2 linked regions of the Homo sapiens genome follow. The protein of the gene in region 1 interacts with the protein of each later gene in a pairwise test. Each region holds a gene or a part of one and is shown in the gene's direction. Other genes may lie near its edges.

Evidence for each region.
Region 2: the proteins of CLCC1 (region 1) and PIGBOS1 interact in binary tests that used the Homo sapiens proteins (3 or more experiments, as listed by UniProt).

Annotation. Positions count from the first base shown.
Region 1 is NC_000001.11:108,931,796-108,940,172, reverse strand, and holds part of CLCC1 (chloride channel CLIC-like protein 1 isoform 1 precursor), read left to right. Parts: intron 1-30; coding exon 31-128; intron 129-390; coding exon 391-537; intron 538-1,864; exon of another isoform or gene 1,865-2,007; intron 2,008-2,754; coding exon 2,755-3,096; intron 3,097-5,230; coding exon 5,231-5,503; 3' UTR 5,504-5,548; exon of another isoform or gene 5,549-5,553; intron 5,554-5,627; exon of another isoform or gene 5,628-7,671; 3' UTR 7,672-8,377. UniProt on the Homo sapiens protein: Anion-selective channel with Ca(2+)-dependent and voltage-independent gating. Permeable to small monovalent anions with selectivity for bromide > chloride > nitrate > fluoride.
Region 2 is NC_000015.10:55,315,307-55,323,441, reverse strand, and holds PIGBOS1 (protein PIGBOS1), read left to right. Parts: upstream 1-4,318; 5' UTR 4,319-4,578; exon of another isoform or gene 4,579-4,614; intron 4,615-5,574; 5' UTR 5,575-5,649; coding exon 5,650-5,814; 3' UTR 5,815-6,258; downstream 6,259-8,135. Other genes in the region: PIGB (GPI alpha-1,2-mannosyltransferase 3), read right to left, coding at 2,052-2,169, 3,032-3,167, 4,029-4,191. UniProt on the Homo sapiens protein: Plays a role in regulation of the unfolded protein response triggered by endoplasmic reticulum (ER) stress resulting from the presence of unfolded proteins in the ER lumen.

The DNA of each region.
Region 1 (8,377 bases):
GATCAGTGTTTTGTCTGTTTCTCTAAACAGAATGGTTTAGAAGTTCATGGACCTATAAGGATGACCCATGCCAAAAATACTATGAGCTCTTACTAGTCAACCCTATTTGGTTGGTCCCACCAACAAAGGTATAGCATATATTTTGTAAAAATTACTTAAAGTCAGTCAGAAATCCCTTGTATTTTAAAGAACTTTAGTGTTTGAGTCATTTTGCTAATAAGCGTTTGTCCAAGAAAAAATACTTTTGCACAGTGATTTTCACATTAAAAATGGCACAACAGCATTTTAATTTATGTAACATACTTTCAGCATCAGTACTCAATGAATTTTGATGCATTCTGTACCTTAGTCCTGTGAGGAGAAAATTAAGTTGCTTTTCTCTCGTTTTAGGCACTTGCAGTTACATTCACCACATTTGTAACGGAGCCATTGAAGCATATTGGAAAAGGAACTGGGGAATTTATTAAAGCACTCATGAAGGAAATTCCAGCGCTGCTTCATCTTCCAGTGCTGATAATTATGGCATTAGCCATCCTGGTTAGTATTAATATATTAGCACTGTCGGGCCAGGCGCGGTGGCTCACGCCTGTAATCCCAGCACTTTGGGAGGCCTAGGCGGGCGGATCACGAGGTCAGGAGATCGAGACCATCCTGGCTAACACAGTGAAACCCTGTCTCTACTAAAAAAAATACAAAAAATTAGCCGGGCGTGGTGGCGGGCGCCTGTAGTCCCAGCTACTCGGGAGGCTGAGGCAGGAGAACGGGGTGAACCTGGGAGGCGGAGCTTGCAGTGAGCCGAGATCGCACCACTGTACTCCAGCCTGGGCGACAGAGCAAGATTCCGTCTCAAAAAAAAAAAAAAATTATACATATATGTATATTTATATATCTATCTATATATATTTATATTTATATATCTGTCTATATTTATATATTTATTATATATAATATATATTTATATATTATATATTTATATTTATATATATATATGCACTGTCAGTATTTAGCAAGATTTATATTAAATCTTAGTATTAATATTAGTAATACTGGTTAGTATTAAATATTAGCACTGTCAATATTTAGCAAGATTTACAGAAAAAAAGGCAATGCTAAAATTATTGGGCTTCTTTGATGTTGTAAATCAGGCTAAGTCACGCTTAATGAGAAGGCGATTTTTAAGTGATACAGATTTTTTTCCTCCCCTCTGCCCCTCTAAATGATACAGACATATTATACTTACTTGTATATTTTTATAATCAAGAAAGTAGTTCTCTAGTTTGATTGCATATGTCATAGCAGTGATTTAGAATAATAACCTCTTTTTAAATGTGTTAACCTTGGTAAATTAATACACAGGAAATAGGAAGTTGATTTCTGTCTCCCAGAAAGGGGGACTTCTTATTTCTAGTCAGTTTTTGCAGCAGTGAGAAGGGTAGAGCATTGAGTTTGACACAGAACCAGAAAGGGATGTGGAAGAACATGGGTATGCTGAGAAAGAGTTTGGGGATCCAGGAGCAGACATTAAGAAGAAATATTACTCGTCATCCCTCCATGGTCTATTCAGTGTTTTTTGTTATCGATTTTTTAGCTATTACCCAAGTAAAGCAGTTGTCGCATAAAACAAAAAGAACTCAGATGTGCCAAGGGAAATTCTCTTCCCTAAGGATACAAGATTCACTATCTCTGTTCACTTTGAAATCGTTTCTTTTTTGGTTTTGTTTTTTGGCTTGTGATTACAGGATTATGTGGTTGACGGGTATTTTTTTGTTAGGTGACATTAGTTCTATAGTCATAGTTTAGTCTCTGAAACTGAAATTATCAGCAGAGTCTTCACCATCTGTTTTTGTTTCATGTGCTCCCTCAGGAAAGTTATGCTCTTTGACTTTTGCTGCTTTTGTCTTCAAATAGTAGTGTTTGAAAAACTAGTACAGAAATTTTCAAAGTTTCTGTTCTCAGGACCTCTTTGCAGTCTTAAAAATTGAAGCCCACAAACAGCTCTTACTTAAGGTGATTATATTTATTGATACTTACATATTAGGAGTTAAAACAAATTTAAAACATACGAGTACTGTACACGCAAGCATGCATCCCCTGAGTCTGAGTGAGGCTGTCACTCTAGCATCTGGAATGCTCCGTTGTATATTCAGGAGGGGACAGTGAAAAAGACAAATAATAATGTCTTTGTATTATGAAAAGTTTTGATCTCATAGATCTCCTGAAAGTCTCAGGTATCCCCCGGGGGTCCCTGGGCCACACTGTAAGGAACTGCTGCCTACTTTTTCCCATGGAATGTGAATCAAAACCTGTTGAATTTTAGCTGTAACTTAAGCCTAGTTTATATTTGTAAAAAGAAAATGTACAGAAGATTGTTTACATAATGATATACAACTTTAAATATTTTCAGCATTTACCTTATATGATGGGCATGAATCTAGAAACATGAATAATTATCAGACTAGAACCTTCTAATTTAAATATCTAGGCTTCAGCCTGCCATTGTTATAGTTCAATCGAAATGTGTCTAGCTGATTAAAATGTCTACTGAAAGATTTATTAAGTTTTATTGGCCACTCTGGCCTTGTATTAATCTAAAGAGGTCTCTAATGAAAAAAAGTCAAATTAACATGTTTATGTCTATAAATGCCACAAGTAAGTTAAATTACATAACTTTGTTAGCACTCTGAATAAAATGCCTCATAACTTTTGTAAGTTAGCCATTGAGTCCTCAGGAAAATGTATTTCTTTTCCTTACAGAGTTTCTGCTATGGTGCTGGAAAATCAGTTCATGTGCTGAGACATATAGGCGGTCCTGAGAGCGAACCTCCCCAGGCACTTCGGCCACGGGATAGAAGACGGCAGGAGGAAATTGATTATAGACCTGATGGTGGAGCAGGTGATGCCGATTTCCATTATAGGGGCCAAATGGGCCCCACTGAGCAAGGCCCTTATGCCAAAACGTATGAGGGTAGAAGAGAGATTTTGAGAGAGAGAGATGTTGACTTGAGATTTCAGACTGGCAACAAGAGCCCTGAAGTGCTCCGGGCATTTGATGTACCAGACGCAGAGGCACGAGAGCATCCCACGGTGGTACCCAGTGTAAGTCAGCAACTCTTTTATTCTGCTGTCCCTTCATTACTGGTTCTAAATCCTTCTGGAAGAGGTCTGATTGTTTTTACTCTTTTACCCCTCACCCTTAATTATATCATGAGTGATACAGCCACTCACTCTCTCCCCTTTCTGGTCAAAAGTTAGTTCAGCTTCCTCAGAAGAAATAAAATTAGATTTAACTTTTATGTAAAATACAATTTAACAGTAGTTTGTTAGAGCAGATGGTAATTCATATGAACCTTCATGGGAAGCCAGCGTATGAGCATGACAGAAATTTCTATCTTTGAAGAGATCAGAGAGAAGGCATCACTGAAGGCCCGGAGCTCTAGGGAAGGTACAGTAGAGCCCTAAAGGATTAGCTGGATGGAAGAGTGGGCTGGGGCCAGGGATCAAAAACATTGCTTCCCCAAATCTTCAGTGTCATTGGCTGGCTAGACTATACTTTTTACCTGTAGAATGGTAAGAAGAAGTTTTTCACCATTATCAGTCTTTTAAAGGGACATTTCCATTTCTGTTTGAGAGAGGAATTTGTATTGTCATTTGAAATGTTTAAATTGCAGCTGTTAAACCTTTGAAACAGTTATGAGCATAATAGAATCTGGGAAATTATAGAATCCCTTCCCATAGTTTCATATAAAAATAAACATATCTACATGTATCTAGAAAGATGGACCAGGCGCGGCGGCTCACGCCTGTGATCCCAGCACTGGGAGGCCGAGGCAGGCGGATCACTGGAGGTCTGCAGTTCAAGACCAGCCTGGCCAACGTGGCAAAGCCCCATCTCTACTGAAAATACAAGAAAATTAGCCAGGCGTGATGTGGTATGCACCTGTAATCCCAGCTACTTGGGAGGCTGAGACAGGAGAATTGCTTGATTCCAGGGGGCGGAGGTTGCAGTGAGCCGAGATCGTGCCATTGCACTCCAGCCTGGGTGACAGAGTGAGACGTCGTCTCAAAAAAAAAAAAAAAAAAAAAAAAACAACTTAAGATGGTCCTTCCAGCTTTTATAGTTAGTAATTACCTGTCACCTATCTCAGAAGTCTTCCAGTGACTTCCTATCTCACTTGAGGGGAAAGCCAGTATTACAATGGCCTGGAAGCCTCCTTGGTCTCCCCTTCCCCCACATCCACTACCTCTCTGGTCACCTCTTCTCCCTCCGTGCTTACTCTACTTTAGCCATAAGGGCTCCTGACTGTTCCTTGAACTTGAGAGCCTTTGTACCTGCTGTTCATTCTACAGTCTTCATTTATATATCAATCATATGGTTACTTTCTTCAGGCCTTTACTCATTTTTATTATTTTTGGAGACAAGGTCTCACTCTGTGGTCAAGGCTGGGGTGCAGTGATCATAGCTCATTGCAGCCTCAAAATCCTGGGCTCAACCGATTCTTTTGCCTCAGCCTTCTGAGTAACTAGGACTATAGGCATATACGACCATGCCTGGCTAATATTTTTTATTTTTTGTGGATATGGGGTCTTGCTGTTACCCAGGCTGGTCTCAAACTCCTGGCCTCAAGCAGTCTTCTCACCTTGGCCTCCCAAAGTTATGGGATTACAGGTGTGAGCCACCATGCCTAACCATATCACTTTTTCAGACCACCCTAATTTAAACTGTAATTTGACCCTGCCAGCCCACCCACATTCAGCACTCATCTCTTCTCTGCTTTTTTTACATAGCCTCTTTAATTCAACATATCACACTTGTGTGATTTTCTTCTAACCTAAATATAAGTTCCAGTGAGAACAGTTTTATGTATTTTGTTCCTGCTGTATCCCTAACACCTAGAACTTAATATATGCTCAAGAAATATTTGTCAAATGAATTATTCTCACCAGGCAAGAGAAGTTGACAATACTGATGACCAATTCTCTTGACCCCTTCTAAGCTGGGCCACTAGACCACCCAGTATATGCGCTAAGCGTTCCCACTCCTCTGTGGGAGTACTGTGGAGTTTGGTGAGGTATAATAACATTTATATAATTATAACCCAGCACTGGACCCTGGATTTGAAAGAGTTTGGAGCTTGCTACAACGGATTTGGGTGGGAACTTTTTAGATATGTTTGATTACTAAGACTTCACATTACATTAAACAGTTAAAATGTAATTTTGTACTTTATAGCATAAATCACCTGTTTTGGATACAAAGCCCAAGGAGACAGGTGGAATCCTGGGGGAAGGCACACCGAAAGAAAGCAGTACTGAAAGCAGCCAGTCGGCCAAGCCTGTCTCTGGCCAAGACACATCAGGGAATACAGAAGGTTCACCCGCAGCGGAAAAGGCCCAGCTCAAGTCTGAAGCCGCAGGCAGCCCAGACCAAGGCAGCACATACAGCCCCGCAAGAGGTGTGGCTGGACCACGTGGACAGGATCCGGTCAGCAGCCCCTGTGGCTAGAGGAACACCAGCACAAACGACAGCCTCAAGTCTCCTTCGAGCTTTGTAAAGTATACTCTTCACTCTCTTTCTCTTCTCTGCAAGAATTCTGATTACTACAAAGGTGCCAACTTCAACATTCACATTTCAACTTCAACATTCACATTTTTACTGACAATTAGAATTAACAAACACGTTATATATGTAAAAGCTTTTCATTTCATCTTCTCTTTGATATTTACATCCCATAAAGTAAGAAGTGTTTATTTTAAGATGAACAGATGACAGGCATCACTGATTCTGGATAGTTAAGGAGGCCAGTTTGAATTGGGGACATTGAAAAAGAAATTTTATTGTTACAGGCACTTACGGGAACCCACTAACCAATTTACATTGCCTAGTGAATCCACTAGAGTTAAGGCCACCCACTTGATGCCTCCAGCATCTTCATGCAGCCATGGAGTATCGTTACCAGGATCAGTCTGACTGACACCTCAGCTTATCTCTACGCAGGCTGCCCACAGGTCACTGTGGCTGTAGTTTCATCTTTTCCACAGCTATTACTACGCCTGCATCCTTATTGTTCCTTTTACTTTGTTTACTTAGAGAAAACTGAAGACTGCCAGGGCAATTTAGATAACATAGCTTGTTATATTGGTAATCTGTTTTACAGAGTCAGTCGACTGAAAATGACTTTATTCTTTTCCCCCACCAATTGAAGTGCATGGGCTTTTTATAAAACCTATTTTTTGTGTTACTCAGAATCCTAGCAGTGGAGACTATTAGATATTACCATATCTTAATTCATATTATAGCAAATCATATTGTCTTGTCCATAGGAAGTTTGCATTTTTAGAGATCTATACATAGAGAATACCATGATGAGGAAGAAGAGAGTTGGGTGTCTTCCTTAACTGCAGACAGGACATCAGTCAGCACTTTACATTAGTCTTTCTGATTATCAAAAGCATTCCTCATTTTAAACTTTTTAAAAAGCAATGCATAAATTTTGTACCTGTCCTTAGCAGACTTCACAGACATCAGGTGTCCTTTGTTTTAACCATATTCACACTACAAGTTATGTTCAACTGCTTACTAAAAGTGATACCAGTCAGGAATAAAGTCTTTAAATTTTCATGCAGATATTTGTATCCCAAGCACTTGCTTTTTTATTTTAATATGAAATGCAGAATACACATTTTTGGATCCAGGAAGTGTTACTTACGTGCCTGTAACAATGTAATTTTAGGCCAGGTGCAGTGGCTCATGCCTACAGTCCTAGCACTTTGGAAGGTTGAGGGAGGATGATCGCTTAAGTTCAGTTGTTGAAATGCAGAATACACATTTTTGGATCCAGGAAGTGTTACTTACGTGCCTGTAACAATGTAATTTTAGGCCAGGTGCAGTGGCTCATGCCTACAGTCCTAGCACTTTGGAAGGTTGAGGGAGGATGATCGCTTAAGTTCAGTTGTTGAAATGCAGAATACACATTTTTGGATCCAGGAAGTGTTACTTACGTGCCTGTAACAATGTAATTTTAGGCCAGGTGCAGTGGCTCATGCCTACAGTCCTAGCACTTTGGAAGGTTGAGGGAGGATGATCGCTTAAGCTCAGTTGTTCAAGGCTATGTACTAAAAATAAAACTAGCCAGGCATGGTGGTACACGCCTGTAGTCCCAGCTACTTGGAGGGCTGAGGCAAGAGGATCGTGAGGTGGCAGTGAGTTATGATCGAGCCACTGTACTCCAGCCTGGGTGACAGAGCAAGACCTTGTCTCAAAATTATACATGTTAATATATTCTAGTTTAATATTGCAAACATCTTTAGAATTTCATCAGAAACGTGATTTTTTCTAAGAAATGCAAAAGGATTTTAGGATTTTTAACACAGAGGACATGTTTAACAAATGAATCCTGACAGACACCTGCAGTTTAGAATAAATTTGTGAACATCCATGCGTATAAAGTGTCCTCTTGGGACAAGACATGTTCACACTGACTTGGGGAATATGCCCCCAAGGTGAGAGCTGTCTTTTGAACTGTGATCTGACTCTGAAAAGTAGTGAATGCCCCAGGTGATAGACTGTAACTGTGAGTGGAATTAATGCTGCTTGCATGCCTTTTAATCCAAAACCAAATTCTTTTAAAAAATTTTTAAATAAAATTTCACCTTTGTATTCTTTCATTACAGATATCCATTTGGGGATGAAGTCTACTTTGACAGCTAGCAAGGCGACATGCAACTGTTGTTGAATGATGACAGCAATTCAGGAAAGACTTAAATATGAAAGCAAATTGAACACATCGGGTGTTTGTTATCAGAAAAGAGATGAGATGAGATAAGACTTGTTTATTGACTAGCCAATATGTCATTAAAATTAAGGTTTATATTGTGAAGCTTTTTTGAAATTTTACTTTTTTTTGAGAGTTTTGCTCTGTCACCCAGGCTGGAGTGAGGTGGTACAATCTCGGCTCACTGCAACCTCCACCTCCCAGGTTCAAGAGATTCTCCTGCCTCAGTCTCCCGAGTAGCTAGGATTACAGATGTGCATCACCATGCCTGGCTAATTTTTGTATTTTTTAGTAGAGATGGGGTTTCACCATGTTGGTCAGGCTGGTCTCGAACTCCTGACCTCAAGTGACCCGCCCTTGTCGGCCTCCCAAAGTGCTGGGATTACAGGCATGAGCCATTGTGCCCAGCCTATATAGTGTGAAGCTTTTAGGAAAATCAGAACAGGGTAGACAGCTGTTAAAAACAATGTTTAAATGGAATAATGTTGAATGTTTACAGGCTGTAAGAACTATTGTATACACAAAATAATACACAAAGTTTGTACTTTGTGTACAAATACAAATTTGTACTTTGTGTACAAATAATACAAAAAGTTTGTATACAC
Region 2 (8,135 bases), on another chromosome or scaffold:
TATGTTGCCCAGGCTGTTCTCAAACTCCTGGCCTCAAGCAATCCTCCCACCTCAGCCTCCCAAAGTGCTGAGATTACAACTGTGAGCCACCATGCCTAGCTGTGCATAAGCCTTATGCAGTTTGTAGAGGAGCCATCTGGGAAGAGCACTAGGCTGTGAGTAAATAGACCTGGGATTTAGCTCTAGTTCTGCTTTTAACACGTTGTGACCTTGGTCTATTTACTTCACTTCTCCAACCTCTTCTAGCTTCAAAATTATGTATATAATTTGCTTAAAATAATCAATATGAGAGTATGAATGACTGATCATATCCTAATGAATCTCTACAGGGTCAAGTTCTAGATACGACAATGAGTTCCTTTTAGAGGGGTTGGAGCAGGTCAGGGGAGGCTTCCTTCACATCACAAAATGACCTGGTGGGTCAGCTACAGATGGAGGGCAGTGGATAGGTCTTGGAGGAGCAGGAAATTTTTCTATCTTGAAGACCTCTTCATTTGTAATCTGACCTACTTCCTGGGATATAAACTGTCATTGATGAGATTATGTATATTTTCTTGTGATTCCAGACTTTATGGATACCTTGCATAATCTATAAACTAGTAGATAACTGTAAGAGAAGAAAAGCCAGGTTGCGGCTCCTAAATTCTGCCTGTTGTTAATGGAAGAAACTCTGCTACTGCTCTGAATTCTCCTTCCCCATCATCTTCCCATTTGAAGCATCGGTTTCACTGGTTTAACCCTAATTTCTCAATAACGGAAGCAAATATTGCAATGGGGAGAGTACAACCCCACCTTAAAACAAATACCCTAGAACCTGTGTCTTTCTAAGCTACACAAAACACGTCAGGATTTGGACTGCCTTTGGAATGCTGAGCCATTAACCCCCACTGACAGAAATCGGGGGGAGCACAAACTCTGAGTCTCATCTGATGACAGCTTAAAAGATCATGGGAGTGAGGCTAGAGAAACTTTTACACCATTAGTCCTGCCCTTGTACTATCTCCTGGCAACTGACCCCAGCAATTAATAGCCTAGGAATTACAATCCTACTTACTGTTGATGCCTAATTACTATATAGGACGATGATTATGCAGATCATTAAATGTTTGTCAAATTAAAAATTTTAAAGTTTTAATTTCAACACTAAATCCTCAGTGGGTTTAGATGTATACAGACTTCATAAAATCATATCACACGGTCTTCTTACAAGGTAAAAAACACAAAATACAACGGTGCTCTCAAGTGATACTTTTTTTGCGGGGGATGGGGGAAGGAGTTTCGCTTTTGTTGCCCAGGCTAGAATGCAATGGCGTGATCTCGGCTCACCGCAACCTCCACCTCCTGGGTTCAAGTGATTCTCCTACCTCAGCCTCCAGAAAGTCTGAGATTACAGGCATGCGCGACCACACCCGGCTAATTTTGTATTTTTAGTAGAGACGCGGTTTCTCTGTGTTGGTCAGGCTGGTCTCGAACTCCCAACCTCAGGTGATCCGCCCGCCTCGGCCTCCCAAAGTGCTGGGATTACAGGTGTGAGCCACCGCACGGGCAGATCACCTCAGGTCGGGAGTTCGAGACCAGCCTGACCAACACAGAGAAACCCCATCTCTACTAAAAATACAAAATTAGCCGGGCATGGTGGTGCATGCCTGTTATCCCAGCTACTCGGGAGGCTGAGGCAGGAGAATCGCTTGAACCCGGGAGGTGGAGGTTGTGGTGAGCCAAGATCACGCCATTGCACTCCAGCCTAGGCAACAAGAGCAAACTCCGTCCCAAAAAAAAAAAAAAAAAAAAAAAAGAAAGAAGTATACTTCTAATGTCCAAATAATACATAATATAGTCATTTTGAAAATCTGCACATCATAACAGGATTCCTCATAGCAGGATATTTTCATGCTCAGTCTTGTATTTCAGCACAAACTAAAGAGTTACACATCACAGTATGTCTGTAGTATCATGGGCTTCCCAGATATGGCTGGACTTCAGCAACAGTAGCCTTTTAAAAACAAATTCCATGGCCCCAATATCATTTAGTTACTTTTATTTAAACTTACCAGCAACTGAACACTATCTTTCCCTAAAAGATGAAGAATCTTGTAAATGCTTGCAAAGATTAAGGGATAAGTGTAACTCCTCAGTCTCTCTGTCCATTCCCAAGTCAAATAACCATAATTAGTAACATTAAGGAGTAAATGTCCAATAATATTGAAACCTATTTCCGTGTTTTTTTTTTTTTTAAGATGGGGTCTCACTCTCTTGCCCAGGCTGGTCTCAAACTTGGGCTCAAGTGGTCCTGCCTCTACAGGTGCACACCACTTCACCTGGCAAAATCTATTTTCATTTCCATTTATAAAACAATATTTTATTTTGTGGCAGTCTTAAAACAGCATTTTATACTGGATATTTGCATTAAAAATTCAATTGGCCAACTAAACTCTTAACTTCTTCAAGGCAGTAATGTGTTTTTTACTTTCTCTGTATCCTCCAAGTGCTAAGTACTGTGGGAATGTATGCTAACGGCTGTGTCAAGTATATTAACATAAAAGAAAGATACAGGAGAAATATTTGTATAAAATAATGGTATACTTTGATGAGTTAAAATTATTTGGGGAAAATACGGAAAACTGAAAATATGTATAGTAGTCCCCCCTTATCTGTGGTTTCTCTTTCCATGTTTCAGTTGCCCAGAGTCAACCACTGTCTGAAAATATGAAGATATTTTGAGAGAGACCACATAAAAGTTCACATAACTTTTATTATAGTATTGTGTTATACTTGTTATATTTTAATACTGTTAATCTCTTACTGTACCTAATTTGTATAAACTTTATCATAAGCGTGTGTGTATTTTTTACATATATAAAAACAATATATATAGAGTTTGGTACTGTCTACAGTTTCAAGCATCCACTAGGGATTTTGGAAACTATCTACTGAAGACGAGGGAGCAAGGGGGACTACTCTAAAAGAAACTGAGCACAATTTCCAAGATGAATACACACTCATAGTCTGGAAAAGAAACCACAAAGGATATTTGAAAACCATGTGATGTGAAACTTCAAGAGACTGCCAGTATTCATCTGGAACAAAACTTGTCTGCACTAAAAAGCAGTTTAATATTCGTAAAGCTATGGTAAACAAGAGCAGATAAATATTTTCTCCAAGAAGATCTGAAAAACAGAACAAAACAGGTAATAGTGGCACAAAAGTCAGGCAGTTCCACTTGCAAAACTTAAAATCTGCTGCTCTGGTTGGCTCCTTGTAAGGCACAGTAGTGACCTCTGGTCCCTCCACACCATTCTTAAAGCCAACTTGGTTGGTTATACAAGCACCACAGCGTCATCACTGGGTGACTGCCACTCTTTTAGTTTAACCAACTTTTCTTGCAACTTATTGTGTAAAGATAATATTAAAATAAATACAAAAAAAAAAGAGTGGGTTAACTAAGGCCTTAGGCTAATTAATTAGGTCATACTATGTGTGTATCTAATGAAAGAAACCAGCTAACAAATTACTAATTTGGGAAGCAGCCCTTTGTATATGTGCAATATAAAATGGTCCTCTGTACATATATATTGATGATTACTATTATATATGCCAGGCACTGTGTTAATTTCTTCACATGCATCTCACTTAATCCTCCAAACAATATTATGGGATAGGTATTATTAGCCCCATTTTACAGACGAGCAAATTGAGGCCCAGAAATTAAACTGCCTTGTCCAAATAAAGTTGTAAATTACTTATCAGGATTCAAACCCGGGTCTGTGTGATGTCTCCAAAGTCCTGCTCTTGACCACAAATGGACAGCCTGTCGGCCAAATACAGAGTATTTTTTAAAAAATTGAATTTAGTTGCCAACATTTAAAAATCAGAATTTATATTAAAATCTGTGTTTCCAGCATTTCCCAGCATTTCAAAACTCAAGATCTGGCAACACAGAGCTCAACGGGCAACTGGCTGGTAATGAAATGGAGGGGGTTCCTTTTAGATGGGGGTAGGAGCTCTCCAGACAGTGTCCCCTCACTCACCCCCGCGGCGCCTGGCGCTCTTCTCCTGGGTGTTGAAGTACAAGGTAGACTTTCTCTTTCGCAGCTTTATCTTGCCGTGGGAGCGGTTCTGGAGACCATGCAAAGTGAGGCTGGCATCTCCGCCCCCCGGCTCCATTCCGCACTTGCTTAGGGGCCTCCTCATCCCTGGCCGCCACCTTCCTAAGGCGGAAGAAAGCTGCAGTAGCGCGCTGCTCGTCCATCCATTAAGTTTGGCCTTTGAGAGCAGTCGTCGCTCGCAAGCCCGGAAGTAACCGGGAACGGGCAACTTCGTAGCTCCCACCCGACGTGGTGGCCTCCTTGCGGTTTCCTTTCGCCGTTTCCGAACCGAGGGATTGCTACTCGCCTTTGGCTTGGCGGTCTCTGTGCTCGGGGGTCCGAAAACTGCTGGAAGGCCCCCGGTCTCTGGAGGGGAGCAGGCGGTAGCGAGTTTAGTGACGTGGAGCAGGCGCAGAACAGTCGGAGGTACCTGAGTGGTTATTAAAAACGGTAACGGTAATTGTAGACGTCAGTGTTGGTGTTAACATTTCAGGTTCGTTGCTCTCACAAAAAATGCCTGTTCAACGAGGTAGGCAGGGTAGGGATGATTTAGCTTGTTGTACAGATGTGGAAACAGGCCGAATGGTTCCTATTTTTTTTGTTGTTGTTGCTGTTGTTAGGTTTTTTTTTTGTTTTTGTTTTTGTTTTTTTTTTTGAGACGGAGTTTCGCTCTTGTAGTCCAGGCTGGAGTGCAGTGGCGCAATCTGGGCTCACTGCAACTTCTGCCTCCCGGGTTCCAGTGATTTTCCTGCCTCAGCTCCCAAGTAGCTGGGACTACAGGCGCGCCACCACGCCTGGCCAATTTTTGTGTTTTTTTGTAGAGACGGGGTTTCACCATATTGGCCTGGCTGGTCTGGAACTCCTGACCTCGTGATCCGCCCGCCTCGGCCTCCCAAAGTGTTGGGATTACAGGCGTGAGCCACCGCGTGCGGCCCACTCCTCTTGTTAAAAGTAAAACCAGGCCGGGCGCGGTGGCTCACGCCTGTATTCCCAGTACTTTGGGAGGCCAAGACGGGCGGATCAGGAGGTCAGAGGATCGAGACCATCCTGGCTAACACGGTGAAACCCCGTCTCTACAAAAAATACAAAAAATTAGCCGGGTGTGGTGACACGCGCCTGTAGTCCCAGCTTCTCGGGAGGCTGAGGTAGGAGAATGGCGTTAACCGAGGAGGCGGAGCTTGCAGTGAGCCGAGATTGCGCCATTGCACTCCAGCCTGGGCGACAGAGCGAGACTCCGTCTCAAAAAAAAAAAAAAAAAGAAAAAGTATGCATTTAAAACCATTGAGAACATTCTGTAATAGAAAAGGTTTTAGTTTTGTCTTATACCCTTCCCTAATTCACTTCCTGTACTCCTTATGTATTTATATTCTTGTTTTAATTAGTAACATATTATAAAAATATTGTTCACTCCAGTGCAAAGTAGTGACATAACATCTTTTAAAAGGACATTGTACTAAGTGATGGCTTTGCTTTCCATTTTTGTATGCAGATTTGAAGAGATTTCCTGGGTGTGGAGTGTGACTTTCCAAAACCAGCTTTTCCTTGAGCTGTATTTGTTGCAGCAATGTTTAGGAGATTGACTTTTGCACAACTGCTTTTTGCCACTGTCCTTGGAATTGCTGGAGGAGTATATATTTTTCAACCAGTATTTGAACAGTATGCCAAAGATCAGAAGGAATTAAAAGAAAAGATGCAGTTGGTACAAGAATCAGAAGAGAAGAAAAGTTAATACTACATGGAGTTAGGCCTGGCGCAGTGGCTCACGCCTGTAATCCCAGCACTTTGGGAGGCCGAGGCGGGTGGATCAGGTGGTCAGGAGTTCAAGACCAGCCTGACCAACATGGTGAAACCCTGTCTCTACTGAAAATACAAAAATCAGCCAGGCTTGGTGGCATGCGCCTGTAATCCCAGCTACTTGGGAGGCTGAGGCAGGAGCATCACTTGAACCTGGGAGGCAGAGGTGGCAGTGAGTCAAGATCACGCTGCTGCACTCCAGCCTGGGTGACAGAGCGAGACTCCATCTAAAAAAACAAAAAGCAAAAAAACCCACAAATACCTCATGGAGATGAACTGTAATAATTGCTTAAAGTTCCATTTAATTATGTTAACTCTAATCTAGCAAAAACATAGATGTACTTAAAAATAAATCATGGATAATGATTTTTTAACCTAACACTGTTAATTTTAATGTTTATTGTATATTTGTCATTTTATGTCTTTTTACCAGGACAGATAAGTAATTTCCTTTTAAACAAAAGTGAATATTTTAGGAATATTTTCTACTTGAGGTTTATTTTTCTAGGAATTCAGCATATGCAGTATCATGGGGTGCCAGTCTCAGTGTGTATATAATAATTGGGAAGGGTGTTTGCAATAGTGTTTGTAGATATGTGAACCAACTTAAACTACCTCAGGCAGAAATCCACTCCGTTACCCTGCAGTTAGATTGGTTTAATATATTTTGGCAGTCATTCAATCCCAGCCGTTTTTCATCTCAGGCAGTGTGGAGGAGTAGTTGAGAGTTGGGATGGCTCAGATCAAATTGAGGTTTTAGAGAAGGTAGATGTTGTTTGAGAGGATGGCAGATATGACACAGATGTTTTTTAATCCACTAAGCAAATTTGCATTAATAATTGTGTTAAGGGAGTAGTTAATTTATTATGAAGCTATTATTCATATAGTTAAAATTTTTTTTGAAGTTACTAAGAATTGGTATTACTTTTTACTCTAGCGTTAAGTTTGTATTTTCTTTTTTTCTCCTTTTTTTTTTTAAGTTCTGGGATACATGTGCTGAACGTGCAGGTTTGTAACATAGATATACATGTGCCATGGTGTTTGCTGCACCTGTCAACCCGTCATCTAGGTTTTAAGCCCTGCAGGCATTAGGTATTTGTCCTAATGCTCTCCCTCCCCTTGCCCCCCACCCGCCCCCGACAGGCCCCAGTGTGTGATGTTCCCCTCCCTGTGTCCATGTATTCTCATTGTTCAGCTCTCACTTATGAGTGAGAACATGTGGTGTTTGGTTTTCTGTTCCTGTGTTAGTTAGTTTGCTGAGAATGATGGTTTCCAGCTTCATCCATGTCCCTACAAAGTACATAAATTCTTTTTTTTTTTTTTTTTTTGAGACGGAGTCTGGCTCTGTTGCCCAGGCTGGAGCGCAGTGGCGCAATATTGGTTTGCTGCAACCTCTGCCTCCGCCTCCCAGGTTCAAGCAGTTCTGCCTCAGCCTACGTAGTAGCTGGGACTACATGTGTGCACCACCACACCTAGCTAATGTTTGTATTTTTAGTAGAGATGGGGTTTCACCATTTTGGCCAGAATGGTTTCAATCTGCTGACCTCGTGATCCACCTGCTTCGGCCTCCCAAAGTGCTGGGATTATAGGCATGAGCCACCGCGCCTGGCCGTGCATGTGTCTTTATAGTAGAATGATTTGTAATCCTTTGGGTATATACCCAGTAATGGGATTGCTGGGTCAAATGGCATTTCTGGTTGTAGATCCTTGAGGAATTGCCACACTGTCTTCACAATGGTTGAACTAATTTACACTCCCACCAACAGTGTAAAAGCGTTCGTATTTCTCCACAGCCTCACCAGCATCTGTTGTTTCCTGACTTTTTAATGATCACCATTCTAACTGGCATGAGATGGTATCTCATTGTGGTTTTGATTTGCATTTCTCTAATGACAAGTGATGATGAGCTTTTTTTCATAAGTTTGTTGGCTGCGTAAATGTCTTCTTTTGAGAAGTGTCTGTTCATATCCTTCACTCACTTTTTGATGGGGTTGTTTTTTTCTTGTAAATTTGTTTAAGTCCCTTGTAGATTCTGGATATTAGCCCTTTGTCAGATGGATAGATTACGAAAATTTTCTCCCATTCTGTAGGTTGCCTGTTCACTCTCACGATAGTTTCTTTTGCTAGGCAGAAGCTCTTTAATTAGATCCCATTTGTCGATTTTGGCTTTTGTTGCAATTGCTTTTTGGTGGCCTTGTCATGAAGTCTTTGCCCGTGCCTATGTCCTGAATGGTATTGCCTAGGTTTTCTTCTAGA